Regions from separate parts of the Homo sapiens genome. Here region 1 is linked to region 2. The links come from fine-mapping of genetic effects on gene expression. A gene starts in region 2. The other region holds a variant in brackets. All regions are shown on one strand. Distances are from middle to middle. Region 1 overlaps MKX (mohawk homeobox). Region 2 holds the start of LINC02680 (long intergenic non-protein coding RNA 2680).

The links. PIP is the estimated chance that this variant, and not a neighbour inherited with it, causes the effect.
Region 1: its variant is fine-mapped to the expression of LINC02680 in whole blood (TOPMed, PIP 0.91).

Annotation. Positions count from the first base shown.
Region 1 is chr10:27,708,066-27,723,914 of GRCh38, reverse strand. All of the region lies in intron 5 of MKX (mohawk homeobox), which reads left to right. Among named protein-coding and RNA genes, the nearest start is that of MKX-AS1, 29 kb to the left of the region's middle. The variant G/A (reference allele first, on the strand shown) is at 9,285.
Region 2 is chr10:27,559,795-27,575,643 of GRCh38, reverse strand. LINC02680 (long intergenic non-protein coding RNA 2680) reads right to left here and starts at 9,457. Exons shown (of 3, transcript XR_007062094.1): 1 at 8,707-9,457; 2 at 5,711-5,857.

The sequences.
Region 1 (15,849 bases), 150 kb before region 2:
CTGATAGTCCTTTCAGCTGAGCCAGTCTCAGGTGATGGTGAACAAATCTCCCAGTATGGCAGAGACATTTCAAGTAAGAATGCCCTGTTCTGCCAAGACAGTCATGATACTAAAATGTACCCTTTTGCTAAGGGCCAAAATTCAGAGTCTCTCCTCCCAGTTTCTACACTGATGTAGACAACAGATGCACAAAAAGGCAAAGTGGTATGTCACATGGCTTCAGAGCAAGAGGATGGCTATCTGGCAAGGGAGAGAATTCCTTAAATGTTACTGGGGCTTACATTTCTAAACATAAAATTCCTAGCCAGAAGCTATTTGGTGCCAAGTGTCTTTGCTGTGATGCCTGAGCCTAGCAGGAAGCTGGATGGTTGCAATATTGTGGCTGGCTGTTGGAATCCACACAGCCTTTGCTAATTTGCAACCAAGATTGAGTGATATGATTGTTTTCCATTTTTTTCTTATTGTTGTTCTGGTTGCATCTGATCTTGCCATATTTTCTTCTCCTAGAATTCTCTTCTGAGCTGCTAAATCTATCCAGATGGGTCAAGGAGTTTCTTCATAACCTTGTCACTAGTGCAACTGGTCTTGTTTTAGTTTTGACGGTGTCTCCTGGGTTCATTTATTTTAGACCTTTTTAGAAATATGGCACTAATTCATATTTATGCAGCAACCCATGGGGACTCTAGCTTATCTAACTGTGCACTTTTTTTCTTTCAACTGTGTACTTTTTTCTTTCAGAAAATTTTGTATGTATATTTTTTTCTTAAAATGTGCTTGGAAAAGTATAAGCATAAATCATCTGGAATAGTAATTCTCAACTATCTTGAAAGGTGTGCGAGGACTATTTCATGGTTACTATGATTGAAGCAGTAAAATTTAGTTTATAGTTACAATAACTTTCCTCTCATTAGGAAAATATAAAAAAGCTCAACTTTATGATTTCACGACATATTACCAACCCTTAAATTCCATTCTAATCCCCACCCCCTAACACACACAGACTCAGTGAAATGCTCACAGGAAGCTCAGAGAAGAACCGTAGAGGCATATGACCCATCTGTGCTATGTTTGACCTCACGTTGTCTCTCAGATGCTTTCATTAAAATGACAGCATAAAGGTCTGGGTAGAGGCTGGGTTGAAGGAATACACATCAAATGTATATTTTGATTATAGTAAAGTCCCCACTCCTTCAACTGTGATTTGGAAAATGACTTTGTAGGGCCCCAGTTTTCTCTCCAACCAACCTCCTTACCTACACGAAATTATCCACTTGTAGATGAGACCACAGGAAGCTATAATGTGGACAGAGCAGAGAGCAATGCCTTAGAAATCAGCAGCTCTGTGTATTGGCCAGATCTGTTAGCAACTGGGTGTGTGTTTTAAGGCAAGTCCCTTTATTAATCATGGCTTTCGTTCCTTTAGCTGTAAAACGAAGATGTATGACAAGATAATCCATAAGTACCTTACATCTCTGACAGCATGCAATTCTGTGCAATGCACAGAGAGACAAGGAAGCCCACAGTTTATAGAAAGTCATAGCTAAATGCACACCGCAATGTCTCTATTAGAACAGAACTTGGGCTCTGAGCCACAAGACAGGGACATTGCAAAGGAGCATTGGGGAGCATGGCACCAGTAAACCTCCCTGGTGACAGGTAAAGGACTCTGCCCAGTGGGGGTGTTGGGCTCTGACCATGGGGTAGGAGGCCAAGAGGGTAGATGTCACGTGTTTACATCTGGCAATGCTTGCCTTATGTCGTGTGTCATTTTTAGGAGATCTCTCCCAAGATTATAGAAGTATGCTATATTTTAACTTTTCTGATAATTTTTATCAGAAGTATATTTTCTGACATTTTTATTATTTTAAGTACATGTTATATACTTATAATCTACCTACAATTTATTTTTGTAAATTATATGAGATCATGATCAGACTACTTTTTTCTCCACCAAATGAACAGCCAATTGTCCCAACACATTTTACTGAATATTTCTACCTTTCCTTATTGATTTGAAATACTACCCCCATTATATACTGACTTCCTTTATATGTATGCCTATTTCTGGACTCTATTGTATTCTATCAAACTTAAACATATATTAATAGCATGACATTTGATTTCCTTTTTATTTTAAGTTCTGGGATACATGTGCAGGATGTGAAGATTTGTTACATAGGTTAACGTGTGCCGTGGTGGTTTGCTGCACCTGTCAACCCCTCACCTAGGTATTAAGCCCAACATGCTTTAGCTATTTTTCCTGATGCTTTCCCTCCCCTTGATCTCCCCATGACAGGCCCTAGTGTGTGTTGTTACCCTCCCTATGTCCACATGTTCTCATTATTCAGCTCCCACTTATAAGAGAGAACATGCTGTGTTTGGTTTTCTGTTCCTGCATTAGTTTGCCAAGGCTAATGGCTTCCAGCTCCATGCGTGTCCCTGCAAAGGACATTATCGCATTTCTTTTTATGGGTGCATAGTATTCCATGGTGTATATGTACCACATTTCCTTTATCCAGTCTATCATTGATGGGCATTTGGGTTGGTTCCATGTGTTTCCTATTGTGAACAGAATAGCGTACCATTTTCATGAGTGTAGTTTTATTGTCCATTTTGATGTATGACAGGGTATGTCTACTTCCATTTTTTTTTTTCAAAATATTCTCATCTAGGTCCTTGAATTTATTGTTCTAGTAGAACTTTAAGTTTGATAATTCTATTTTAAAAACTCTTGTTAGAAGTTAATTTGGGATTTCATTGACTTTAAATGTTAGTTTGGAGAATATTTTTGTCCATGATATTTATATCAAATCTTCCCACTGAGGGCATGGCAGATTTCTCCATTTATTCTGGTCATCTTTTTAGTTTTTACAGTTTTCCTTACGTAGGGTTGGGATATTTCTCATTAGGTTAATTTCTGGATTTTTATTTGTTGTTCTTATTGTTTCTATTGCAGATGAGTTCTTTTCAATAATAGCTATAATGGATATACGGGAAAGCTGTTGCATTTTGTATATTTTTCTTATATCTAGTTCCATTGTTCAAGTACACAAGTATCTCATCTTCAGATAGTAAGTTTTGTGTATTTACTCTCCTTCTCTTTCCCTTCCTTCCTCTCTCCATTTATTGCATCATGTTGGCCAGGTCCTACAAAACATCATTGACTCACAGCAGTAATAACACACATTAATGAGAATTTGTCTCATATTTTACCATAGAGTATAATGTTTGCAGAAGGTTTCTGGTGTAATCACTTTATTGAGTTAAGGCATTCTCTTTCCATTCCTAGATTATTTAATAAGATATCTCCCCAACCACACACTTAACTGAATAGGTCATTGCATTTACAACAAACTGCTGTATCTATAGTTTTTAAGATTGTCATCTAGTTGTCCTCTTTTAATCTATTTAAGTTATTTACAGTAGTACATTTCCTAATGCTTAATCATCCTTGAATTCTTGGGAAAGTTTTTATTCCATATCAATATAATATTCTTTTAATATATTTCTGGATTCACTTTATTAACATTATTTAATAATTTTGCATCAAAATTCTTAACTGAGATTTGTCTTTAGCTTTCTTTTTTTTTTTCCTAATGGTCTCCTTGCACAGTTTTAGTATTAGAGTTATGTTAGGCTTATTGAATGAGCTGGAATGTATTTTATCTTTTTCTATGCTAGGAAATTTTAAATAAAGTTAGCATTAACTCTTCCTGATGCCTTGAAAGTTTAAAAGAATTCACTTGTGAAAGGATCTTAGCCTGAGATTCCTTGGTTCTCTACTTTTCCTCTTATGTTTCTCATCTTTCTCCTCCATTTTCTGAACAGTTTTAGCTTTATCTTCTAGATTATTATTAATAATTTGGTCTTTAACTTTTCCCCCATTCATACTTTAATCAACTTTTTCTCTCTCTCTCTCTTTTTTTTTTTTTTTTTGAGACTCTGTTGCCCAGGCTGGAGTGCAGTGGCACAATCATAGCTCACATCAGCCTCAAACTCCTGGGCTCAAACAATCCTCCTACCTTGGGCCTCGAGAGTAGCTGGGATTACAGGCATGTGCCACCATGCCCAGCTAATTTTAAAATTTTTTTTGTTGAGATGGGAGTCTTACTATGTTGCCCAGGCTGCTCTCAAACTCATGGCCTCAAGCAGTCCTGCTACCTTGGTCTTCCAAAGTTCTGAGATTGACAGATGGGAGCCAACATGCCTGGCCCTATAAATCAATTTTCCTACTGCAGTTTTTCTTTTAAGTTTGGTGTCTTATTTTTATTCTCCAAGAACATCTTTTTTTTCTTATCACTACTTTGTCATAGCAGCTATGATCCCTGTAGAGATCAGAAGTTACTAGAATCTCTACTCTGTACCTCTTAATGGCCTTAAAGCCTTTTCTAGGAACCCCCCTTAGACAGGTCCCCTAACCTATTTAAAGAGCATTTGTAGCAGCTTTATGCTGCGGTTAGATGACCCAGAAAGCTCTCTGTGGACTCAGAGAGGAAGAAGAGGTATGCCCTAGCTCTTCTGACAGCTGTCTCGTAACTGATAATTTTCTTGATTCCCCTGGTAGGCTACTTATTCTTTGTGAACTGTGCACTTGGAACATCTGTGCCCTGTTGGGAGAAGCAGCTCACACTCTCCACGGTCTTGCCCTCCACCTGTTTTGAGTTGTGGTTCCCAGTTTGGATTTCCCCACCAACTTGATGCCATATGTATTTTCCTTTCCATGAATTTCTCAACTTTTCTGACTTGGCAATGGTACCTTTTATTGTTTTTGAGCCCCATTAAGCATGTATTTGTTTTCAAATTTACATTTTGCAATTTAATGAGATTTCGAGAGAGAAATTAATAAAGCTTATTCAGTACCCCCTCTTAAAGGGTAATTCTATAACACAGACTTTTAGCAAATGATTTTATGGTAAAAGATGTTTTCCTTACTTCTGAGAGTTTTTATGGAGAATTTGCACACATTCAAAGTTAAGCATAGATTCTGAATATCAACGAATAATAAATACAGAGTAACTGTGCACACAATGGAGCAGTGGGAATTGTTGCAACATTCCTGGTAGGTTTCATGTACAAAAACATGATGCATTGTGATAGGTAAGACTTCCTGAACTATGGTGCTTGAATAAAGAGATAAATATAATTTAGTTAAATAAAAAAAGCCATAATTATAATAATATGATATATTATTACTTGGCAGTTGTGCACCTAATCTGTACTGTACTTTTGAAATGTGACTGGAGTCCAAGTGGATACTATTTTACTATGTCGTTAAGCTTGTAGCACACTAGACCTGACTTTTCTTTTTGTCTTTCCAGTGGAAAACTTAGGTTCTTTGAGTGAGGACTCCTGGGATTTTTTAAAGTAAAAACAAGGAGCTAAGAATTCCACTCCTTCTTGCCAATATTTCCTTCAAGCAAAATTATTGATTAATGGAAAATTAAATATCATATGCTTCATATTGCTTTTTTACCCTTTTGTACTTGGGTTATTTTAATAATTTTCGCTAGCGCTACAAATGTAATTGACTAAAATTATACATCAAAATAAAACAAAACCATGGGAGGGAAAAGATTATCATATTTTGAAAACATATCAATAAAGTACATATTTAAATTTGCATATTTGGCTTATTGTGAAAATGTCAAAATAGTTTTGCTTTCCTCTAATACCTTCATTATTATTTCTTCTTTTTCTTCTTCTTCTTCTTAGTAATAATACAGTGTATTGTCTTTGCTTAGCGCTTTAGATTCTTCGTTGGTTTGTTTGACTGTGAATGAGATGACTGAGTATTTCACCATACTTCTATGTCCCTGAGCAGTGGTGAACTGACCACAGAATATTTTTCTGTGAGTTTTCTTTCTTCCTTCAGGAATAAGGTTGATTGTTCATCTGTCACCAGGAGGAAACTATGATGCTTACACAGTAACGAATTTAAAATAAGCCACTGTTCCCAAGATCTTTCCAAGAGCAGCAAGCTTTCAGTGGAGTAACTAATATTTCTAGAGTCCTTTGTTTGCAGGGCACTTATCATCATTGTGTTAGGCAGTCCCTGTTATGCTGCATGGGTCTTTCCCTGAATTATAGAGCTAGTTCTCTGGTTCATCCTTTAAGGTGCTAAAATCACGCTGATGAGGTCGAGTTTTACATGTTATCACTAGTTGATCTCGCCACTGGGCAAAAATCATAAACAGCAAATATCCAGACCTAATTTCTAGCTAACAATTGCAGCATACTCCTCCACCAGGCTTTCCCTGGGAATAGGGGAATTTGAAGGGTTTTCTTTTCCAATGTTTCTGTATATCCTGTTGGAGATGCTGATGGGCAATGTCATCTCCACACACATATTCTACGAACATATTAAGTGAAACCTCTGCAGCTAAGAAGGGCAAGAGAAATGCCAGACGTCCAGCCTGAGATCATGGTACCTACATGGCCAGGAACAGACAGCTTGCATGCAGCAGTCAGGAATGTAGTATGTGGTTTCTGAATTCATTAACAATGTCAAGTTGAAAACTGATGACTACAGTTATAAATCAGAGAACAGTTTTTAATGCATATGTATTAGTTTTCTCTTGCTGCATAACAAATCATCACAAATTTTGTAGCTTTAAACAGCACCCATTTATGAGCCCAAAGTTCTGGAAGTCGGAAGTCTGGCATGGCATAGCTAGGTTCTCTGCTCAGGGTCTCACCAGGATGACATCAAGGTGTCATTCTGGGCTCTAAGAGAGAACCCACGTACAAGCTTATCCAGGCCAATGACACAGCTCATTTCCCTGTGGCTATAGGACTGAGACCCACATTTCCTTGCCTCTCAATTTCTAGAGGCTGCCCAACTCCCTTCCTTGTGGCCTCCTGGCACTTTCAAACCAACACCCACATGTTGAGTCTTTCTCAGGCTTGAACCTCTCTGACTTCTCCCCCTGCCTTCCCCCAGGAAAAAGCTCTGCATTTAAGGGTTCATGTAATTACCTCAAGCCCATCCAGATAATCTTCCTATTTAAGGTCAACTGATTGATCATCTTAATTACATCTGTATAGTTCCTTTTAACATGGAACGTAACATATTCACAGATGTAATACCAGGTTGAAAAGTCATGAGGGCAAAATTCTTCCTACCCCAGCATAGATCATGTGGCAGCGGGATTTGGGTAAGGTTTGGCCCGTACAACCACAAATGTTTAGACAATTAACATTATGATGAGTGTGAGCTTATAAAGTACAAAAAAATGTACCGCTTTAAATGCTTTTGGTATGGCTAATCTATAAATGGAGTAATCAAATCCTGTCTAAGTAAGTTAGTTGAAATTTACATAATTATTTACATATGAGCACAGAAAACACGTGTTCTCTTTATCCATTCAGTCAATCTTGCTTTCCTTAAGGTTACTTGTATTTTATCTCATAACATAAAGTAGGCATTTTCACATGCAGGCCAGCATCAGGCAATTGACAGTGTGCTTTTTTTTTTTTTTGCTTTTTTTTTTTTGAGACAGAGTCTGACTCTGTCACCCAGGCTGAAGTGCAGTGGCATGATCATGACTGACTGCAGCCTCATCCTCCCGGGCTTAGGTGATCCTCCCACCTCAGCCTCCCTAGTAGCCTGACAATGTGCTTCTAAGGTAGCTGGCTAGATTATTCCCCATGGCATGATGAATGTTTATCACACATAATAATGGCTGCTATTTATCAAGCATTTCCTATGTGCCTGGCATTGTGCTATGTGCTACACTTGCATGTATTATTTTAGTTAGTCCTTACAATAACTCTGTGATGTACATATTACTATCCTTATTTTAAGGATGAGGGAACAGACTTAAATAGCAGAATGTGCCCATATAAGCTGAGATGTTGCAGAACCATGATTCGAATTCATATCTGTTTGACTCTAAAACCTTCTTCAGCACTATCTTTTACTTTTTCCCAATCCTGGGAAAAGATGGCAGTTTATTTTTGAGAGATCCTTAGACCTGCTTTTATGTCTTCCTCTACCTTTTTTTCCCACTATGCCCAGAGCAACCTATGTCTTTATGCTATGCCCAGCCCCCAGCCCATCCCATAGGTCCTCTGTCTGCCCTTCGATCTTCTGGAGTAAGTGGTTTTCCATCTGTCAATCGAGAATGGCAGGCTCTCATCTCAGGCAGCTGACGTCAGTAAAGTATGAAAGGAGCACCATCAAAATAGCTTATACCAGGGCATAATAATGACAAAAATAGCTAGGGATCCCTGTGCCAGGCACTGCACTAAGTGCCCTACATGTATTTTCTTACTCAAGCCTCATAATACCCCATGAAGTAGGTACCTTATTATCCTCATTTCCCACAGGGTATTTTGAAGGCAGAATTTCTAAATCTCTGAGGGGATTAACAGTGTGAGAGAGTTTGCAGGGAGAGTCCTTGGCTTCTCCAGGCCATCCTAATCCTTTCCTCATTCTAGAAGATTAGGATCAGCCACGTAGCACCCTCATCTTCAGTAACAACTTTCAGTCTAAAATTTATTTCATCCCTCCTTCGTCTTACTTCAGATCCTTTCTCCCGGAGTGCCACTGTGAGCATTTGAGGCTGGAGAGAATGCCATTAGGACCAAGCCTTCTCTGTAGCACAGGCCGGTGGCATTTTGGTCTTAGAATCCCAGGAGAGAACACTGAACATCTCTGTAGAGAGGAGAGGGACTCCAGCAACATAACACAGTGTCCAGGGCAAAGCAAGCGTCTGCCTGCAGCAATTCTCCTGAGAGCCATGGAGGCCAAAACTATGATAAAGGAAAGTACAGCAATTGCATGGAACAAGGGTTACAGGCTCCTTATTAGTGGGGAGAGCTGCTCCTTTGAAAGGGACAGCAAGTCTGTTAAGAAAACAAGACTGCAGTCAAGTTCCTTCCTATGGCCTAAAGATCTGAGTGGCCTCAGAATGCCAAAGGCAGGAAAGGAAGAGAGACCCTGCCTGGGGTCTAGGGTCCAGGCCCTCAGTCACTGCCCCTGCCTGTAGATTCGACTTACACCCTTTACTTCACATCACTCTGTAAATCCACAGAAAATAAAGTTGCACCTTGATTTTCAGAATAGATACATTCCAAAAACAAAAGGTTTACATCTAATCAAGGTTTAAGGACAGAGCAGACACTTGGTGTTTTAAACTAATCTTGCCATAAATCGTTTTGTTATATGTACAGCATAAGTCAACTTCTGTTTCATAAGTTTAGGTTCTAAGATACTGAGTTTTTCTTACATTTCATGTTAACCAGAAATATCAGCTTCCTTTGGTTGAGTCTGTCATTGTGTC[G/A]GCAGTAACGGCTATTAAAATATTGCATCCTGGTTGTAAAATATAACTGAAATCACTGGAAAATATAATACTAAGTGGGCAAACTGTGACTACCATAGTTTCGAAACCACAAAAATGTTGTCTTGATGAGGGAGTACATACTCTGTTTTTGATCACCTTGTATTAATGAAGATTGTTACTTTAAGAGAATAATTAATTTTAAAAAATGTCAAGCGCTTTCTCTAACAATGGGACTCAATGACATTCCTTTAAAACAACTTTCACTTTTAATCTATCATTAAAGCCAAAGGTTTTTTTAAATTTTAAAAGCTTGTCCTTGAACTAAAATAACATGGAACATTTTAAAACATGGCTCCAAGCTGCTCTACATACATTTTATTTAAACCACAGAGACTGCAGTTAGATTTCTCAGTGCCAGACAGACTACAAATTATAACTGTAGCAGAAGCGACTGTGAATTTCTGGATGTTGTAGTACCAGCGAGCCTGGTTGCTTTTTGGAGCTGTTCCTCCCTTTGGGCTCCACTCATGAATGACTTAATCCCTGTGTCAGATCAAATGTCATGCCTGTTGCCATGCAGAGAAAAAGCAAGCAAAGCCTCTTTTTTTTTTTTTTTTTTTTGGTCTTTGCACAAATTTGCTGTACTCGCCTACAGAGGAGCAGGTGAGAAGTAAGAAAAGTCACAAAATAGAAGTTGTAAAGTGAGGCTAGAACACAGTGAAACTCCAAATGTTGAATGTATGATGAAAATATCATCTAAAGCAGAACGCCATTGTTTATCATGGCAAGAAGAGGGCAATAACATCCATGGTATCCACGGTTGAATTGTAAAAATATTTTTACTAAGGTCATTTTTGTACTTACTATTCTGGTATTAGATTAGCAAATCTAATGCCAGATTAGATCTAATAATACCGTATATTGTGTTGCACTGTGTACTGTAGAAAGTACCTGAACATCTGTTATTTTATTTGATCCTCATTATAACTCTATGAGGTAAAAATAAGGATAATTATTCCTGCTTTCATGCAGGGTGGGAGGGAGTGATCATCTCTTGCACAGCTACTTAATGGCAGAGCCAGAAAGAAAATTTAAGTCTCTAAGCTCCTGGTTCAGGCTCTTTCCACTTGATTTTACTGTGTTTTCCATCCTGGTTAAGTCAACTCAAAATAAAAAAATCATTTACGGAATAGAACTCTCTAAAGCAGTCACTCTTAACTTCCTTTTGTACATGGACTGCTTTAAAAATTGGGTAAAAAGCCTTGCATCCTTCTTCAGAAAAATGCACATCCACCCCCTTAAACCCACACAAACACATAGACACTGTTGTGTAGCCCAGATGGCAACAAGGGTATCTCTGATCCTTTTGATCTAAATAGCAATCCCTTAAATACTTGATTGCACACTATGGAAGGTCAGACACTTCTGAAGATTTCTAGAGATGCCCAAGGGCTCCATCTTCTAAGCATATGGTATATTTGGTGCTTGGGTCGTGTTGCCATTCCACATATGTGCTCCCTGTTCCTCATCGCGTGGATTCAGATGTGAAATATACTCCCTTCCTCAAACGCCAGAAGATCCCCACTCTCGGAAAGCTTGTGCACGTGGTACAGTTGAAGGAAGATTCAGAGGGAGTGAAGGAGGACCTTCCATCACAGCAATTCATATGACTTTATTATTGTTGTTTTTTTTTAGAGACAGGGCCTTGCTCTGTCATCCAGGCTGCAGTGCAATGGCATGATCATGGCTCACTGCCACCTTGAGCTCTGGGGCTCAAGCCGTCCCCCCACCTCAGCTTCTCTAGTAGCTAGGACCACAGGCACTCACCACTGCACCTTGCTAACATTTTATTTGTAGAGACGGGGTCTTGTCGTGTTTTGTCTCAAACTCCTGGCCTCAAGAAATCCTCCCACCTCTGCATCCCAAAGTGTTGGGATGACAGGCCTGAGCCACTGTGCCTGGGCACAGCAGTTTATATGATTTCCTACAGAGCACTACTTGTCTTCATTCTTTAGTGCCCTTTGGCCACCCCGACATGGGACTCTTCCTTGCCTGCTTCACCTCCCAGGGTCTCCAGCCTCACAGCACCTCACTGGTTCTACTCTTCCCCCTCCCACCTTTTCCTTTTACCTCCTAATCCCCAGTTGCCTCAAAATCCCATGTTCTTTACCTGTAGTGTAACCCAGGTCTCTCCTGCTTCAACTCCCAAACTCTGTTCCATGCTCAGACCACTTACTGAGATGCTAAGCGAACTTAAGGGGCTTTCTAGGTCCCCTTCACCTTCCTTATAAGGCGTTTGGGACATTAAATGGTAGTGTATTTTCTTCATGCACACCTGTTTATAATTGTAGGAGTTTCAAGGATTCCCTAAAACATCATCCCCCTGGCTTTAGAATCCCATTCGAAGACAGCAATGGGAATGTCTGGGCTTCTTGGATCTGTGAGTTTAGAGCTTTTTTCAGGTTCCTTTTTGGAGCAGAGTTGATGATTAGGGACAGAGCGCTCTTTTGACCACTCCAGAGCTGTATCCAAGCCAGGACAGCTGGTGTGGGGCACCACGGGATCCCATGCTTATGGCCCTGCCCGTCTCCTTCACCTGGCCAATCTAGAAGCAGAGGTTGGTATGGAAACTTCTAGGAAAAAAGAAAACAGGTCAGTTGATCCAACAAAAATCTACCTTGGTTCATGCTTATCAGTCTACCTGCTTCTTGTCCTTTATGGGAAATGATACCTGTTTTATAAGAAAAAGTGAAGGATGAACACAGTTGTTCATGCCTGTAATCCCAGCACCCAAGAGCAGGAGGATTGCTTGAGGCTAGGAGTTCAAGACCAGTCTGGGCAACATACCGAGACCCCATTTCTATTAAAAAAAAAAAAAGAGTTTTAAAAATTAGCTGAGCACGGCGGTGGGCGCCTGTAGTTTCGGCTACTGGGGAGGGATTGAGGCAGCAGGGTCACTTGAGCCCAGGAGTTCGAAGCTGCAGTAAGCTATGACTGTGCGACTGCGCTCCAGCCTGGACAATAAAGCAAGACCCAGAAAAAAAAAGAAAAAAAGAAAGAAAGAAAAGAGAACAAAAGAAAGAAAGAAAAAGGAAGGAAGGAAGGAAGGAAGGAAGGAAGGAAGGAAGGAAAGAAGAGAGAGAGAGAGAAAGAAAGAAAGAAAGAAAGAAAGAAAGAAAGAAAGAAAGAAAGAAAGAAAGAGAAAAGAAAGAAAGAAAGAAGGAAAGAAGGAAAGGAAGAAAGAAAAGAAAAAAGTGACAATTATGAAATAAGAATAGATAATGACATAAAATAGCATTTTAAGAGTAGATAGTGCTTTTAGGAAAGAAATGTTTTAAAATATTAATGTATTTTTAATTTGATTCAAATATGAAGCTATGTTATTCTGAGAGATGCATTCTTTTCCCAGTGATGAAGCTTCTCTTCTTGTTGGTGGTCTGTGACTTTAAAGCACTGTTGCCTGGGATTTATCTCTGTTTCCAGGGTATTCTAGCACATCTAGTTTTATTCATACCTGTGATGGATAGTACAAAAAAATTATTATCATCTTACTTGAAAAGTAATGATATGATTGGGCTAAGATTGAACACGTTTCTAAAGGAAACTCTTGCCAGTCCAATAATATGACTTATAAATATAATTGGTAAGCACAAATGTTTACAAACAAAAACTGGCTGAGCACAGTGGCTTACGGCTGTAATCCCAGCACTTTGAGAGGCCGAGGCAGGCAGATCACTTGAGGTCAGGAGTTTGAGACCAGCCTGGCCAACATGGTGAAACCCCATCTCTACTAAAAATACAAAAATTAGCCCATATGTAGTGACTCATGCCTCTAATCCCAGCTACTTGGAGGCTGAGGCACAAGAATCACTTGAACCTAGGAGGTGGAAGTTGCAGTGAGCCCAGATCATACCACTGCACTCCAGATTGGGTGACAGAGCAAGACTTTATCTCAATCAATCAATAAATAAAAATAAAAAATTAAAAACTAGCAGAAATATGGAGTTAGAGATAGACCAGAAATGGAATTAGACCCATTGCCAATTCTGCAGTTGTGTGGAAAAGGTAGAAATTCTCAAACTGGGAATTGGCCCTGCCCATGCTGCCCCCAGAGGAGGAGTCCCTTCTGGGCCTTAGGCTTTAGCTTACTCTCTGATTGATCTATTGGAGGACATTGGGGAGTGTGTCCCTCTCATGCTAATGCAGAAACTAAAGATGAGCTGGTGAGAGGGGGAATCCAGTCCTTGTGACCAGTCAGTAGTGAATCCAGAATAAGAAGTTACTTTAAACCAGGGATCAAGAATAGGAAGCAAAGTATGTGGCCACAAATCAAGCCCTAGCTCATCTTCAACTTTTTCATTGCAGGACAATTCTAGGAATCTCTGCTTCCACAGGAATGCTATAGGAAACTATGGCATCTCTGAACTTCTGAGGCATCCTCAGGATTCACTATGTCACTATGAAATTTAAGGAACAGCCCACAGAGTGGTTCACTTGTTCATTCTGCCTAGAGAGCCCTTAGAATTGTGCTGTCTGATATGGTAGCCAATAGCCACATGAGGCAACCCAGCATGTGAAATATGACTAGTCCAAATTGAGATATGTTTAAATATATGAGAAAAGAAAGCATGGAAAATATCTCATTGATAATTTCTATACTAATTACATGTTAAAATGATACTATTTTGTATATATTGGGTTAAATAAAATATTTTATTAAAAATACTTTCACTTTTTCTTTCTACTGTAAGTGCATCTACTAGAACATGTTAAATGACTTATGTGGTTTGCATGTAGCTCACATTATAATTCTATTGACAGCACTGCCTTAGAGTCACGGGGCTTCCCAAATGGTGGTGGTGGTGGGAGGAAATTTATGGAAAGGGCTTTTATTATAACTCATATTAAAGAAGAGGCATCGAGAGGGAAGTCAGAGTTTAATTTGGCTTAAAACTGGCTAGTATCCCTTTCATCCCACTCCAGAGGGGCACAGGATCTTCATCTTCAGGAAGCCCTGCTGTCTTCATGGCCACTCACACATGTGGAACAGAGCCACATCCTCAGATCAGCTCACCCTTGTTTTGCTATTGTTACCAGTCCTACCAGAAATCAGTGCGAAGAACTGGTTTGTTCGCCTCATTAAATGTTGACTACCCTACAGTACAGTCATCCCTCTGTATCTTGGGAGGCTTGGTTCCAGGAACTTACCCTACTTCTGCCACCAATACCAAAATCCACAGATGCTCAAGTCTCTTATGTAAAATGGCATAGTATTTGCATGTGACCTGCACGCATCCCCCTGTATCCTTTAAATCATCTCTAGATCACTTATAGTACCTAATACAATGTAAATGCTATGGAAATAGTTGCTATTTTTAATTTGTATTTTTTTGTATTATAAACTGTATTTTTTATCTGTATTTTTTGTTGTATTGTTGTTTATTTATTTACTTTTTTCTTTTGAGACAGAGTCTCGCTTTGTCACCCAGGCTGGAGTGCAGTGGCACAATTTCAGCTCACTGCAACATCCACCTCCCAGATTCAAGTGATTCTCCTGCCTCAGCCTCCCAAGTAGCTGGGATTACAGGCAGCCACCACCATGCCCAGCTAATTTTTTTATCTTTAGTACAGACGGGGTTTCACCATGCTGGCCAGGCTGGTCTCGAACTCCTGACCTCAGGTGATTCACCTGCCTCAGCCTCCCAAAGTGCTAGGATTACAGGCGTGAGCCACTGCACCCAACCGGTATTGCTGCTTTTTATTGTTTATTTTTTTCCAAATATTTTTCGATTCACTGTTGGTTGGATCTGCAGATGCAGACATGGAGTTCCAACTGTATAGATTTGTCTCATTCATCCCTGGTACTCGACATATTATCTGGCAATAGTCGTTTTTTTTTTTTTGAAAAGAAGTCTCGCTCTGTCACCCAGGCTGGAGTGCAGTGGCATCATCCTGGCTCACTGCAACCTCTGCCTCCCGGTTCAAGTGATTCTCTTGCCTCAGCCTCCCAAGTAGCTGAGACTAGAGGCGCACGCCACCACGCTCAGCTAATTTTTTTATTTTAAAGGAGATGGGGTTTCACCATGTTGGTCAGAATGGTCTCGATCTCCTGACCTCGTGATCTGCCCACCTCGGCCTCCCAAAGTGCTGAGATTACAGCCATGAGCAACCGCGCCCGGCCTATAGTCAATTTTTTGATGCATTAAAGAAATAGAAAATGTATAGATGAATAAATGAACAAATACATTAATGGTGCACAATAAACCATTATTAATTTCTGTGGGCTTAGGTATACGGGAGAAGGCCTTGTGATGGTCAGTGAGCTAAACCAGGGAAAAAAAAGTGTGAAGTGAGAAGTAAAGTACTTTTTACAAGGGGTGAGATACTTGCCAGGATGCACCAGTTGTCGCTCTGAGTTCTCTACGGCCAGCATCTCTTGTGATTGTTTGGTGTGAATGCCATACTGGCTGTTAAATATTTCAATATTCTATGGTTGGAAGGATTTCTTAGTTTTTTTTAAATTAAATCAACTAAGAGAAGTAACAGTTTCCTTCTTTAAGAACAA
Region 2 (15,849 bases):
AATGACCTGAAAGATGCAGATTTACATTGTTGTCTCTTGATCATTCCATAGTCTGAGTCGTACAGGTGGATATGAGTATCATGGGGGCCAACCAGCGCTGGAATTTTGCCTTTGGCAACTTTATTTCTGTTTTTGATGTTATTGTATGTTTTTAGCTTGTTTGGTTTCCTGTAATGATGTTTCTGCTGCCATTATAGCATGCTGGTGGTGTATGATGGTCTACCAAGAAGAGAGGACTATGATTTCAATTGTTTCTCTGCATTAACCAGCCACCAAGAATTTCAATGACTTTTTAAAACCAGGGCCAGGCATGGTGGCTCATGCCTGTAATTCCAGCACTTGGGGAGGCTGAGGCAGGAGGATCAGTTGAGGTCAGGAGTTTAAGACCAGCCTGGGCAATATAGCAAGACCTCGTCTCTTTAAAAATGTTTTAAATTACCTGGGCCTAGGGGTGAATGCCTGTAGTCCTAGATACTCTGGAGGCTGAGGTGGGAAGATTGTTTGAGCCCAGGAGTTCCAGGCTGTAGTAAGCTATGATTGTGCCACTACACTCCAGCCTGAGCAATAGAGCAAGGCCTTGTTCATAAAAAATAAAAATAATGAAAAGTTTCAGATTAAAAAAATTGTAGTGAATATAGGCTTTCATTTGATAAGGGTATTCATAACTTTCCTCCTAGTTTTTCCCTTTGCTACTGCTAGTTCAAAGGTCTAGAAATAGCCCCAAGTAAATCTCATCTAGTTTCTTTCCTGGTCTATTTCTTATCTTAACGACTCAGCCCCTGAAGACTGGGGACATCCCCTAGTACTAAACAGCCCCATGCTTCAAAGAAGTCACCAGATAATAGAAAAATGGTAGAAAAGAAGCATTTGTTTTTCCTTCTATCACTGCCTCTTACACACTTTAGCTTCTCCATGATCTCCAGCAGGAAGATGGGACCACAGTATGTGAGACTCCCCAGTGATCCATGGATGCTTCCAGATGCATCCTTTGCAGTGTTGTTCCCCTCCCTCATCAACAGAATGTCTTTTTCTTACTTCCAAAAATACTGCACTGCTTTCTTAGAAAAGGAAAAGACCCATGACTCTCCCATCTTCCTTCACTTGATCCAAACTGTAATGTATGCAGCAGGAATTCTGTGACATTTGTATAGTACAGTTGGCATTGTTCCTAATTTAAAGACTTGTCTAAGTTTGTCCCCCAGATAGTATTTATTTGATCTTTCTTTTGAGGGCATTTTGGGGTGACAAACCAGGAATCAGTAATATGTAAGCTTACTCTTATACTTTCATATTCCTTGGTTATCTAAACTTTCTAACTTTTCTTAAATGAATCTATATTATTTGTATAATTTAAAAATACATTTTACTTAAATTTACTTAAAAATATTATTAAATTTCATTTAATAGGACTTTCCAATCAATTAATTCCTACAGTAAATATTTGAACTTACAAAATATTCCAGATGATATTAGCTAAGTTCTAATTATCGGTTTAAATAGAGCCTCCTTTGTTACTTTTACTGTTATTATGATAATTATATCAACCAAGCAGAATGCACCTCTGCTCAGGAAAATTTAGGTGAAAATGATAAGATTAATAAGTTGTTATTCTACCCTGAGGTATTCTTCTTGAGTCTTTTCAATCCAGACTATTATAAACAGGAAAAACATCAGCATTTAGATTAACAGCTGGATTTTGTTTAAAATATTTTCTTAATTATAATCTATTTAATTTTTTGCAGTCTAAGGGAGTTTTGATGTTATTGTTATTGGAGAAAATCTCTTACTTGTGTTTCTTATATGACAATCTTGTGTTTCTGGAATACAGAGCTGAAAAATATGGTGGCAATTGCTCTGGAAAGCTTGTCTTCTTACTTGGCTCTTTCAAATTTTGCACCCAAATAATAATTCTCTTTAGGGGTCAGTCCTGAAAAATATATCAAATCTCACCAAATCATGTAGAAATAGAAGTTCCCCAAACTGGAAGAAGCCTAATAAATCTTATTTCTTCTATCAAGCTGTATATTTGTATCCATTAATCAACCTCTCTTAAAACCCCCAACCCCCGAAGATGTGTTTGTTGATATGATGAACAAATCAAGAGAAAGACAAGATGGTTACAAGATTTGGGGCTTGAATGACTGGACAAAAGAAGGTGTTACTTCCTGAGAGGTGGATCCCTGAGCAAAGAGCTATTTGCAAGAAAAATCAAGAATTCTGTTTGCACATGTAACATTTAAGATTTATCAGACAGGGACAGGCCCTTGAAGGTGTGACGTAGAGGTACAAGAGGGTACAAGAAGGATACAAGAGTCTGGAGTTCAGGTAAGAGGGCAAGACTGGAGATATGAAATTGAATTAAAATCAGAGTGGGAGATTTTAACACACTTCCATCTTAAACGGATAGGTCAAGTAGACAAAAAGTTATTCTTGATAGAGGAGATTTTAATGAGACAATGACATGCACACGGACACACACACATGCACACAAACCATAACCATATAATATGTTGTGCACAACTGGGACACATTTGAGGTAAAAGGGGACATAATAATTACGATTAGGCAGCAGGTATAAACTGGGACAAAGAGTTGCAATGCACACATCCCACGTCTTATACCAGATTCCTACAACAATGTTAGAAATTAATAATAAATAGAATCTTCCTCTCCAAAAAAATTAACAGCACAAGTTTGAAAACTAAAAGTCAAAGTGACAAACAACTGATAATTGTAAGATAAACTCACAATGGAAATTTTGAAATTTTGGAATTAAATGGCAGGGAATATATAGCACATTAAAACCTATGAAAACGTACTAAGGTTTTATTTCTGATAAAACTTTTTGCCTGAAGAATTAGCCATTTAATTCAAAGGGCTAGGAGGCTGGGCACAGTGGCTCATGCCTATAATCTAAGCACTTTGGGAGACCAGAGCAGGAGGATAGCTTAAGGCCAGGAGTTCAAGATCAGCCTGGGAAATATAGGGAGACTCCATCTTTACCAAAAAAAAAAAAAAAAAAATCGGCCGGGCGCGGTGGCTCACGCCTGTAATCTCAGCACTTTGGGAGGCCAAGGCGGGCGGATCATGAGGTCAGGAGACTGTTGAGACCATCCTGGCTAACACGGTGAAACCCTGTCTCTACTAAAAAATACAAGAAATTAGCCTGGCGTGGTGACAAGCGCCTGTAGTCCCAGCTACTCGGGAGGCTGAGGCAGGAGAATGGCCTGAACCCAGGAGGTGGAGCTTGCAGTGAGCCGAGATCGCCCCACTGTGCTCCAGTCTGGGCGACAGAGCAAGACTCTGTCTGGAAAAAAAAAAAAAAAAAAAAATTAAAAATCAGCTGGGCATGGTGGTGCACACCTGTGGTACTAGCTACTTGGGAGGCTGGAGCTGAAGGATCAATTGAGCCCAAGAGTTCCAGGCTGCAGTCAGCTATAATTGCACCACTGCACTCCAGCCTGGAACAACACCCTGTCTCTAAAAAAGGGGGAGGGGGTATTAGAAAAAGATTAACGGAGTAAATCTTTTTTAAAAAGTTGAAAGTGAAAACCTTTACAGAAATTAACAAACTAGAAAGCAAATACACACACAAACAAAACAAGAAAAGCAATAACTAGATTCTTTGCAGCTTTTTTTTTAAAAATAGCAAAATACTGGAAACAATTTCAGTACCTATCAGTAAGAGAATAGGTAAATAAAATGTGGCATGTTACTACAATGAAACAGAACGTTGCCATTTAAATGAATAAACTGAAGCTTCGTGTATCCTTATGAATAAATCTCAAAAGCAATGTTGAGTAACAAAATCAAGTTGCAAAATGATAGGTGCAGTATAATGCCATTTATGTAAAGTTTCAAACACACCAAACAATAATGTTTACTTTTTCTTTTTTTTTTTTTCCTAGATGGATTCTCACTCTCTTACCCAGGCTGGAGTGCAGTGGCACAATCTTGGCTCACTGCAACTTCCTCTTCCAGGGTTCAAGTGATTCTCCTGCCTCAGCCACCCGAGGAGCTGGGATTACAGGCACCCATCACCATGCCCAGCTAGCTTTTCCTGCCTCAGCCTCCCTAGTAGCTGGGACTACAGGCACCCGCCACCACGCCTGGCTAATTTTTTGTATTTTTAGTAGAGATGGGGTTTCACCATGTTGGCCAGGCTGGTCTCGAACTCCTGACCTCAAGTGATCCACCCACCTCGGCCTCCCAAAGTGCTGGGATTACAGGCGTGAGCCACTGCACCTGGCCAATAATGTTTACTTTTATGACTGCACAGAAACTTCCTAAGAGGCAAAAGTTTAGATGAGAAAGATGTCAACTTGAGAAGAATGGCCAGACCCACAGAATGGGAAGAGGATGTTCCTGTCATGGAAAGACACAAAGGAGACTTTAACTACATTTGTCCTATTTTTAATAATATCTGAAGTAAATAAGGCAAGTGTTAAGATGTGTTAAATCTGGATCTTAAGCACCTAAGTGTTTGCTATTTTCTATATGTCTGAATTATTTCATAATTTTTAAAAAATTTGTAAAAGAAAAATTGTGTTGCAATCAAGAGCATACATGAAATAATGTTTATTCTGTGAAATTATTTATCATATACTGTCTACTCCTCCTCCTCCTCCTCCTTCTTCTTCTTCCTCTTATTCTTCTTCCTCTTTCTTCCTCTGAGTCAGGGTCTTACTCCATCGCCCAGGCTAGAGTGCAGTGGCACGATCACAACTCTCTACCACCTCAACCTCCCAGGCCCAAGTGATCCTCCCACCTCAGCCTCCCAAGTAGCTGGGACTACAGGCTCACTCCACCGCGGCTGGGTAATTTTTGTATTTTTTGTAGAGATGGGGTCTTGCCATGTTACTCAGGCTGGTCTTGAACCCTTGGGCTCAAGTGATCTTCCTGCCTCAGCCTCTCAAATAGCTGGGACTACAGGTGCATGCCACCACATGGGCTAATTTTTGATTTTTGTAGAGATGGGGTCTCCCTATGTTATTCAGACTGGTCTCGAACTCCTGGGCTCAAGCGATCCTCCCTCCTCAGCCTCCCAGAGTGCTGAGATTACAGGCATGAGCCACCACACCCAGCCCTTCTGTCTTGTTAAGTATTACAAAATGAAATGTCAGCTGGCCTCCCTCCACAATGGAATGACCTTGCTAGGACTTGACACCACTTCCCACTGCTCCTCTATCTGTTCTTTTGCTTCTCTGCCCTTTCTTCAGAGCACAACGTTTTGGAGAGTATATTGGCCAGATCAACAAAAACAACATTAAAAAGTACTCTGTTTCTGATGTTGAGTAAACATGACATCTTTGGCTGATAAGTTTTTAATTCTATCAACAGCTCAGGTTGAATATATTAAATTTGGGCTCTATCATCAGATTTTACAGCTTGAGAAGGAGGCATCTGATAATATACACAGAAAAGCAGGCCATCTGTCAAACATGAAAGCTACACAGGATGCATTGTGCAGCAGCGGGGCTGCCCCGCTCTACAGCTAAGCAGCAAAGCTCTGCCATGTGGTTCCCATCAAAGACCTCAAATGGGAATTTCACATCATAATCTAAAGAGACGACCCTCGATTAAATGCAGGCCCAACACATATACATGTCAGGATTTGGTAGAGGTATTTCTATTGCATAACATATGTAGTCATTTCTGGTACATAAATTGGATTTTTACAGGCCTGTACAGACTCCACAAAGAACCTTACCTTTTTTTCACACTCTTTCTGACAATACTTTGTATAGATGTTGACATTTATCCTTTGAGTTGCAGTAATTGGGTAGTGTGGCTTTTACATTCCTGTAAGGTGGCTTTGAGATACTAGCAGGGAGGAGCAGGAATGAGCCAAGACCAGCTGGAAAAGAGAACGTACGGGCTCAGTAAGAATGCTTATCATTGTGAGAGTATGGAGATAGGGGAAAGTAGGAAGACCAACAGGGAAAGGGTAGAGGAACAATTAGAGACTCTAATGTTCAAACCTAAGATGCCTCATCCTCAGTGCTCCTGAGACCACCCACTGCTGTGCCCCACCAGCTCAAAAAGAGACACACACCTCAGAATAATGGTCTCCCCCAAATGGTCACATCTGTATCCCCAGAACCAGTGAATCTCACATGGCAAAAGGGATTTTGCAAAATCGATTTAGTTAAGGATCTGGTTTGGCTGTGTCCCCACCCAAATCTCATCTTGAACTGTAGCTTCCATAATTCCCACGTGTTGTAGGAGGGACCCCGTGGGAGATAATTGAATCACAGGGGTGGTTTCCCCCATACTGTTCTCGTGGTACTGAGTAAGTCTCACAAGATCTGATGATTTTATAAGCGGTTTCCCTTTTCACTTGGCACTCTCTCATTCTCTTGTCTGCTGCCATGTAAGACATGCCTTTCACCTTCTGCCGTGATTGTGAGGCCTCCCCAGACATGTGGAACTGTGAGTCCATTAAACCTCTTTTTCTTTATAAATTACCCAGGTATGTCTTTATAAATTACTTTATAAATTACCCAGGTATTTCTTTATAAATTACTCAGGTATGTCTTTATCAGCAGCGTGAGAGTAGACTAATACAGTTAAGGACCTCGAGATGGAGATATTACCCTGGATTATCTGGATAGGGCCAATGTATTCACAAGGGTCCTTGCAAGAGAGGGGCAGGAGGATCTTACTCAGAGAAGGGGATGTGATGACAGAAGCAGAGATTAGAGGAAGAGAGAGATCTGAAGACAGTGCTGCTGGTTTTGAAGCTGGAGGAAGAGACCCTAGCCAAGGAATGTGGGCGGCCTCTAGAAGCCCACAACAGCAAGGAAGTAGACCTTCCCCTTGAGATTCCAGAAAAATGCAGCCCTGTCAACACCTTGATTTTAGAACTTCTAACTTCCTGAACTATAAGACAATACATCTGTGTTGTTTCAAGCCACTAAGTCTGTGGTTACTTGTTTGGTAACAACAGGAAACTAACACATGTCTCCATCCCTGGTGAGAAGTTACTGACTTATGACTCCATTCCCTCAACTCTTGATAGCCCTTCCAGTTCTCAAAGTTCATGTTTCTGTGATTACAAACTAGGGGACCATGTGGAAACGTTGTTCTTTTTTCTTTCAATATGTTGACAGTACATTCCTCTAAACAAATTACGAGTCCTGATTTGAAAGATTCAGAGACAAAAACGCTGGGGCCACAGAAATGAGGTAACTTCACACATGAATTGCAGCTGATAAAAAAAAAAATAGCAGACCTGCACCCACAAGACAAGGTACCACTTCCCTAGAGGGAAGCTCAGCTTCATGCACATCCTCTGTGACCCTCCCTGTATAACCTTGGAATCCACATTCACTTCCAGGAATCCAAGCACTTTCAACTTACGGAGGGAATACCTTTCACTTAAAAGTACTGAAATGGTAATCTTCCCTCATCAATATAAACACACATCTAAGAATCACCAGATAGCTGAGAAAATAACAATGTGAAAAAGAATTAACACATGAGGAAACAGAATTTACAAAGGAAACAAGAGAAGACTGCAAAATAATCATTAGTATCCTCAGAGAAAGGAGAAGCTATCACAACAAGAAAAAGTTTCTTTGAAAAAGTGATCAGAGTGGTTGGAAAATAGAAATGATTGTCATCCCCCAACTCCACAGATAAATCTCAATCTGTGGGCTAAGATACAGAAAGGAAATATGTGAAGATTAAAGTGGCGACCTGGAAATGCAAGCTGAGTGATCCTCCAGGATACAGTGCAAAATAAGAAGTAATAAAGTGATGGGGAAAAGGTTAAGAGACAAAGAAAATAGAGAACACAAGTCCACTGAAACCCTAGCAGAAGTTGTGAGGAGAAACTCATAGCAGATACATCTTACTGAAATTTTTGATGAGAATAAAGAAGTTTTCACTACATGTTCTCACTTATAAGTGGGAGCTGAACAATGAGAGCACATGGACACAGGGAGGGGAACAACACACAATGGGGCCTGCCGGCGGTTGCAGGGCCAGAGAGAGCCCCAGGAAAAATAGTTAATGCATGCTGGGCTTAATACCTAGATGAGGGGTTGACAGGTGCAGCAAACCACCATAGCACACATTTACCTATTAACAAACTTGCACGTCCTGCACATGTATCCCAGAACTTAAAATAAAATAAAAAGAATAAAGAAGTTTTCTTGTTACTGATTTCTATTTTGATTCTGTTAAAGTCTGAAAAAATACTCTGTAAGATTTTATTACTAGAAATGTATTCAGACTTGTTTCATGGCTCAGGATATGATACATTTTGGTGAACATTCCATATGCTTTTAAGAATAATGTGGGCAACATGGTGAGACCTCATCTCTACAAAAAATAAAAATTGTCTGGCATGGTGGTACGCACCTGTATTCCTAGCTACTTGGGAGGCTGAGGCAGGAGGATTGCTTGAGCCCAGGAGTTTGAGACTGCAGTGAGCAATCATCATGCCACTGCAATCTAGCCTAGGCAACAGAGCAAGACCTTGTTTTTAAAAAAAACAAAAAGAAGAATGCATATTTTGCAGCTGTTGAGATAATGTTCTATAAAAGAGGTTTATTATGAGAATTAAGTGGATTAATGTGTGTGAAATGACATAATAACATTGAAATATCTCAATAAGCACTAGCTGTTATTTTGCTATTGAAAAACAGTTTTCTTTTTTTAAAGTAAGATAAAAATAGATATCTGATATTCCATATTTACCCACATATTTACCACTTGGGTGTTCTTCATTGCTTTCTGTAATGAAGTTTCCATCTGTCATTACCGTACCCTGAGCTTTCAGCTTTAGATTTGTAGTGTTGATGAGCTGGCAAAAAAAAAAAAAAAAAAAAATCTCTCAGCTTTCATTGATCACAAAATTTCTTCATTCTCTTTTGAATGATATTCTAGATGGATATGATATTCTGGGCAAGCAAATTTTTTTCATCTCAACACATTTAATATGTTGTTCCATTATCTCTGGGCTCCACTGCTCAAATGAGATATAAGACACCATCTGTATCCTTGTTCCTTTGGCTATTTTCAAAATTTTCTCTCTAGCTTTTGATTTTACCTTCAGTTCACTCATCTTCAGTTCATGCTAGTTTCTTTTGCCATCTCTAGTCTACTGGCTAAACCCACCCAGAAAACATTTCATTTCAGATACAGTACTTTTCATTTCTGGAATTTCCATTTGATTTCTTTTATCCATTTCTCCAATAAAATTATAAGTTTGTTTAGTCATTGTGGTCATTTCCCTTTAAGTCTTTGAAGATGACCATAATAGCTCCTTCCAAGATTTTGTCTGGTAATTCAAATATCTCAGCGTTTGTTTGTCTTGACTATGGATTCCATGTTCTTGTTTGTTCACCTTTCTAGTGAATTTCAATTGTGTAAAAGATTAACCTATGCCATGGTTTGAATGTGTCCCCTAAAGTTCATGTATTGGAAACTTGATCCCCAATGTGGAGGTGGTGGGAGATGGGACCTTTAAGAGGTGTTTAGTTTGTAAAAGCTCTGCCCTCATAAATGGATTAATGCCATTATTGTGAGAGTAGGTTTATTATCACAGGAGTGGGTTTCTTTTCTTTTCTTTTTTTTCTTTTCTTTTTTTTTTTTAGATGGAGTCTCACTCTGTTGCCCAGGCTGGAATGCAGTGGTGTGACCTCAGCTCACTGCAACCTCCGCCTCCTGGGTTCAAGCAATTCTCCTGCCTCATCCTCCTGAGTAGCTGGAATTACAGGTGCATGCCACCATGCCTGGCTAATTTTTGTATTTTTCGTAGAGATGAGGTTTCACCATGTTGGCCGGGCTGGTCTTGAACTCCTGACCTCAGGTGATCTGCCTGCCTCAGCCTCCCAAAGTGCTGGGATTACAGGCATGAGCCACTGCGCCAGCCTAGGAGTGGGTTTCTTATAAAAGGATGAGTTTTGTCCCCTCTTGCTGTCTCTCTCATCCATATGATGTATTCCACCACATTATGATGCATAAGAAGGCCGTCACCAGATGCTAGTACTTTATATTGGACTTCTCGACCTCCAGAACTATAAGCCAATAAATGTCTGTTCATTATAAATTACCCAGTCTGTGGTATTCTGTTTTAGCAGCACAAAATGGACTAAGCCTCTTATGAGCTACTCATCTATTACCAAGGATTATTATTTTTGCCTTTTAGAAAAATACACTACTAACAATGTAATAGTTAGACTGAATGATGGAAGGTCAGATTCAGAGAGATCCATTAGAGAATGTTAATGTTACAGATTACAGTGGTAATGGAGAAGTTCAGGTTTTAACGAAGACCTGAACTAAGGATAAGGAACTCTATTTATGTATGCCAAGATGTGGAAAATAATCTAAATGTCCATTGACAGATGAATGGATAAAGAAAATATATGCAAACAATGAAGTATTATTCAGCCTTAGAAAAGAAGGAAATCCTACAGTATGAGACAACATGGATGAATGTGGAGGACATTACACTATGTGAAATAAGGTAGTCACAGGACAACAAATACTTTTTTAGATGCTTCATATAAGTGGTTCCACTTACATGAAGTATCTAAAAATAGCCAAAGCCAAACCCGTACAGAGAGTAAGAAGACTGGTTGCCAGAGGCTGGCGGCGGGGAGGGGGAAATGGGGAGTTGATATTCATTGGGTATAAAGATTTAGTTATACAAGATGAATAAGTTCCAGACATCTGCTGTACAATTAAATGTCTATAGCTAATACTTAAAAGTTTGTTGAAAGAATAGGTCTCATGTTAAATGCTATTACTACAATTTTTAAAAAGAGAAATGCTAGAAATCAAAAACACTGTAAGAGAAATGAAGAGCCTTTGATGACCTTGTTAGTAGACTGAATATGACTGAGGATAGAATCACTAAGTTTGAGGAAATGTCAATAGAAATATTCAAATTGGAAAAACAGAAAACGAAGAAGTGAGAAAGGAACAGAAGAGATTAAGTGAAGCAATAATCATTGAGAATTTTGCTCAAATAAATGTCAGACACCAAACCACAAATCCAGGAAGCTGAGAGGGCACCAAGCAGGATAAATCTCTCTCTCTCTTTCTTTCTCTTTCTCTTTCTCTTTCTCTCTGTCTCTCTTTCTCTCTCACACACACACACAGACACACACACACACATACCCTACATGTAGGCATATCATATTCAAACTGAAGAAAAATCAAAGATAAAGTGTTTCAAGAAGGCAAAAGAAAAAAAAACACTTTATCTCTAGAGGAGCAAAGATAAGAATTACATGTGATGTCTCCTCAGCAAGTAGGCAAGCAAGAATAGAGTGAAGGGAAGTGTTTAAAGTTTTGAGATAAAAGGCCACCAACCTAGAATACTGTACCCTGAGAAATTATTCAAAAGTGAAGGAGAAATGAACTTTCTCAAACAAACAAAAATCAAATTTGTTGCCAGTAGACCTGCCTTGCAAGAAATGTTGAAGCATGTTCTTCAAAGAGGAGGAAACTGATACAGGTCAGAAACTCAGATCTACATAAAGAAAAGATTAGCACTGGAAAATGAATAAGATATGGTTGGACAAAAACTTTTACTTTTCTTATTACTCAGTTTTCTAACCAATAAATGTTCAAAATAATAATAGAGGCTGGGTGCAGTGGCTAACACCTGTAATTCTAGCACTTTGGAAGGCTGAGGTGGGAGGATCTCTTGAACCCAAGAGTTTGGGACCAGTCTGGGCAACACAATGAGACCCTGTCTCTACAACAACACAAAATTAGCCTGGCATGGTGGTATGCACCTGTAGTGCTACTCAGGAGGTTGAGGCAGGAGGACTGTTTGAGCCCCAGAGGTCAAGGCTGCAGTGAGCCATTATTACAATATTGCACTCCAGCTGGGCAACAGAGCAAGACCCTGCCTCAAAATAATAATAATAATTGAAGGGTATGGTGGTATATGTCTGTGGCCTCAGCTACTTGGGAGGCTAAGAGTGTCACTTAAGCCCAGCAGCTTGAGGCTGCAGTGAGCCATGATCACACCACTGCACTTCAGCCTAGGCAACAGAGTGAGACTCTGTCTCAAAATAAGAATAATAGTAATAAAAACAATGTCTTTTATTATCTATGCTTATATATATATATATGTATGTTTATGTAACTTTACGTATAAGTGATAACTTTAAAAAATGGGCCCATTTCTTTGAAATTTCACAATCTAACAAAACTCACAAAAGAAGAAATACTTTGACTAGGCGTATATCTATTAAAGAAAGTAAATCAATAATTAATAACCTTCCAAAACAGGAAGCACCAGACCCAGATGGGTTCACTGGTGAATCTACCAAATATTGAGGAAGAAATTATGGCAATTTTCTACAATCTCTTCCAAAAGACAGAAGCAGAGGGAATATTTCCTAACTCATTCTATGAGGCCAACATTACCTTAATACGAAAACTAGATGAAGACATTATTAAGAAAGAAGACTACAGATCAATATCTCTCATGAACAAAAATCCCCAATAAAATATTAACAAAAAGAATGCAACAATGTATAAAAAGATTACACACTATGACCAAGTGAGATTTATCTAAGGTGTGCAAGGTAGTTTCAACATTCAAAAATTAATTAGTGTAATTCCATCACACCAATAGGCTGAAGAAAAATTACATGATCACACAAATAGATGCAGAAAAAGCATTTAATAAAATCCTACATGCATTCATGATAAACCATTCAGAAAACTAGTAATAGAAGGAAACTTCTCAACTTGATAAGAAGAAATCTCCAAAAACCTACAGCTAACATCATAGTTAATAGCAAGAAACTAGAAGTTTTCCCACTAAAATCATGAAAAAGGTAAGGCTCTCCTCTCACTACTCCTTTTCAACATCATACTGGTAGTCCTAGTTAATACAATGAGACCAGAAAAGGAAATAAAATGTATACAGATTGAGAAAGAAGAAATAAAACTATGGTTGTTTTCAGATGACATGATTGTATATGTAGAAAATCTGAATGAATTGACAAAAAAAAAACCGCCTAGAACTAATAAGAAATTATAGCAAGGTTACAGGATACAGGCTAACATACAAATGTCAATCATGTCTCAGTGGTATAGTGGTGAGCAGAGCTGCCTTCCAAATATCAACCATTTTCCTATATAACAGCAAGGAACATGTGGAATTTGAAATTAAAAACACATTATTACTCACATTAGCACCACCAAAAATGAAATACTTAGCTGTAAATCTAACAAAATCTGTATAATATCTATATGAGAGAAACTACAGAATTCTGTGAAAGAAATCAAAGAACAAAATAAATGGAGAGATATTCCATGTTCATGGATACAAAAAAATTAATGGTTTCAAAATGTCAGTTTTTCTAACTTGATCTATAAATCTAATACAATTCCAAAATCCCAAAGGCAAAAGACCCAGAAGGGCCTTCTCAATATTGAAGAACAAAGTCAGAGGATGGCCACTATCTGACTTGAAGACTTTGATCTTTGACAAAAGAATAAAGGCAATACAATGAAGCAAAGAAAGTCTTTTCAAGAAATGTTGCTGGAACAATTGGAAATCCACATGCAAAAGAAAGTCAATCTAGATAGACATAACACCCCTAACTAACTTAACTGAAAATGGATTATAAACCTAAATGTAAAATGCAAAACTATAAAACTTCTAGAAGCTAATACAGGGGAAAACCTAGATGACCTTGGGATGGCGACGACTTTATAAATTCAATACCTAAGGCATGATCCATGAAAGAAATAATTGGTAAGCTGGACTTCATTAAAATTAAATTTTCTTCTCTGCAGAAGACAAGTCAATAGAATAAAAAGAAAAGCTACAGATTGGGAAATAATATTTGCAAAAGACATTATCAGATAAAGAACTGTTATTCAAAATACACAAAGAACTCTTAAAACTCAACAATAAGAAGGCAAATAACCCAACTAAAAAAGACTTTAACTGACGACTCACCAAAGAAGACACAAGAATGGTAAATAAGCATATAAAAAGATGCTCAACAACATATGTCACTAGAGAATTGCAAATTAAAACAACAACAAGCTAACACGACACATCTATTTGAATTGCCAAAACCCAAAATGCTGACAACATCATATGCTGGTGAGGATGTGAAGCAACTGGAATTAGCATTCATTGCTAGTGGGCATGCAAAAAGCCACTTTGTAAAAGCTTGGCAGTCTCAGGGATTCTCCCAAATGAATTGAGAACTTACATCCATGCAAAAACCTGTATGCACAAGTTCATGACAGCTTTATTTATGATTGCCAAAACTTGGAAGCAAATAAGATGTCCCTCAGTAGATGAGCAGAAATACAAATGGGTATAGACAGAGAATAAAATGTTCTTCAGTGCTAAAATAGAAGTGAATGATTTAAGTCACTAAAAGACATGGGGGAAACTTAGTGCATATTACTAAGTGAAATAAGCCAATCTGAAAATCCTACATATTGTAATGATTTCAATTATACAACATTCAGGAAAAGGCAAAACTATGGATATGATAAAAATATCAGTGATTGGCCAGGCATGGTGGCTCATGCCTATAATCCCAGCACTTTGGGAGGCCAAGGTGGGCGGATCATGAGGTCAGGAGATCGAAGGCATCCTGGCCAACCTGGTGAAACCCTGCCTCTACCAAAAAAAAAAAAAAAAACAAAAATTAGCCAGGCGTGGTGGGGTATGCCTGTAGTCCCAGCTACTCAGGACACTGAGGTAGGAGAATGGCTTGAACCTGGGAGGCGGAGGTTGTAGTGAGCCGAGATCTTGCCACTGCACTTCAGCCTGGTGACAGAGCAAGACTCTGTCTCAAAAAAATATATATATACATATATATATATATATATATATATATATATATATATATATATATATACACACACACACACACACACACACATATATATATATACACATATATATATATATATATATACACATATATATATATATATATATATATATATATATAATCAGTGATTGCCAGGTCTTAAAGGAGAGGGTGGGATGAATAGACACAGATAATTTTTTTTTTGAGATGGAGTTTCATTCTTGTTGCCCTGGCTGGACTGCAATGGCACAATCTCAGCTCACTGAAACCTCTGCCTCCTGGGTTCAAGCGATTCTCCTGCCTCAGCCTCCTGAGTAGCTGGGATTACAGGCCCCCACCACCATGCCCGGCTAATTTTGTATCTTTAGTAGAGACAGGGTTTCACCTTGTTGGTCAGGCTGGTTTCGAACTCCTGACCTCGGGTGATCTGCCTGCCTCAGCCTCCCAAAGTTCTGGGATTACAGGCGTGAGCCACCACGCCCAGCCCACAGAGAATTTTAGGGCAGTAAAACTACTCTGTATGATACCACAATGGTAGATACATGTCATTGAACACTTGTCAAAACTCACAGAATGTACAACACCGAGAGTGAACTCTAATGTAAACTATGGACTTTGTTGATAATCACGCATCTCTATAGGTTCATTGATGGTAACAAAGGCACTTCTCTGGTGTAGGTTGTTGATAATGGAGAGGCTGTGCATGTGTGATGGCAGAGGATATATGGGAATTCTGTTCTTCCTGATCAATTTTGCTGTAAACAAGAAACTACTCTAAAAACAGTCTATTTGTGAAAAAGTACAGAATGGAATTAATCACTCTAGGAGAAAAATTAAGAAAATAGAAACAACAACAATAAAAATGTAGACTATCACTAGAACCAAGATTTTTGAAGTGGTAAGTGTGATCAATAATGTTAGCAGAGGCCAGGCACGGTGGCTCATGCCTGTAATCCCAGCACTTTGGGAGGCGAGGCAGGCGGATCAGTAGGTCAAGAGATTGAGACCATCCTGGCCAACATGG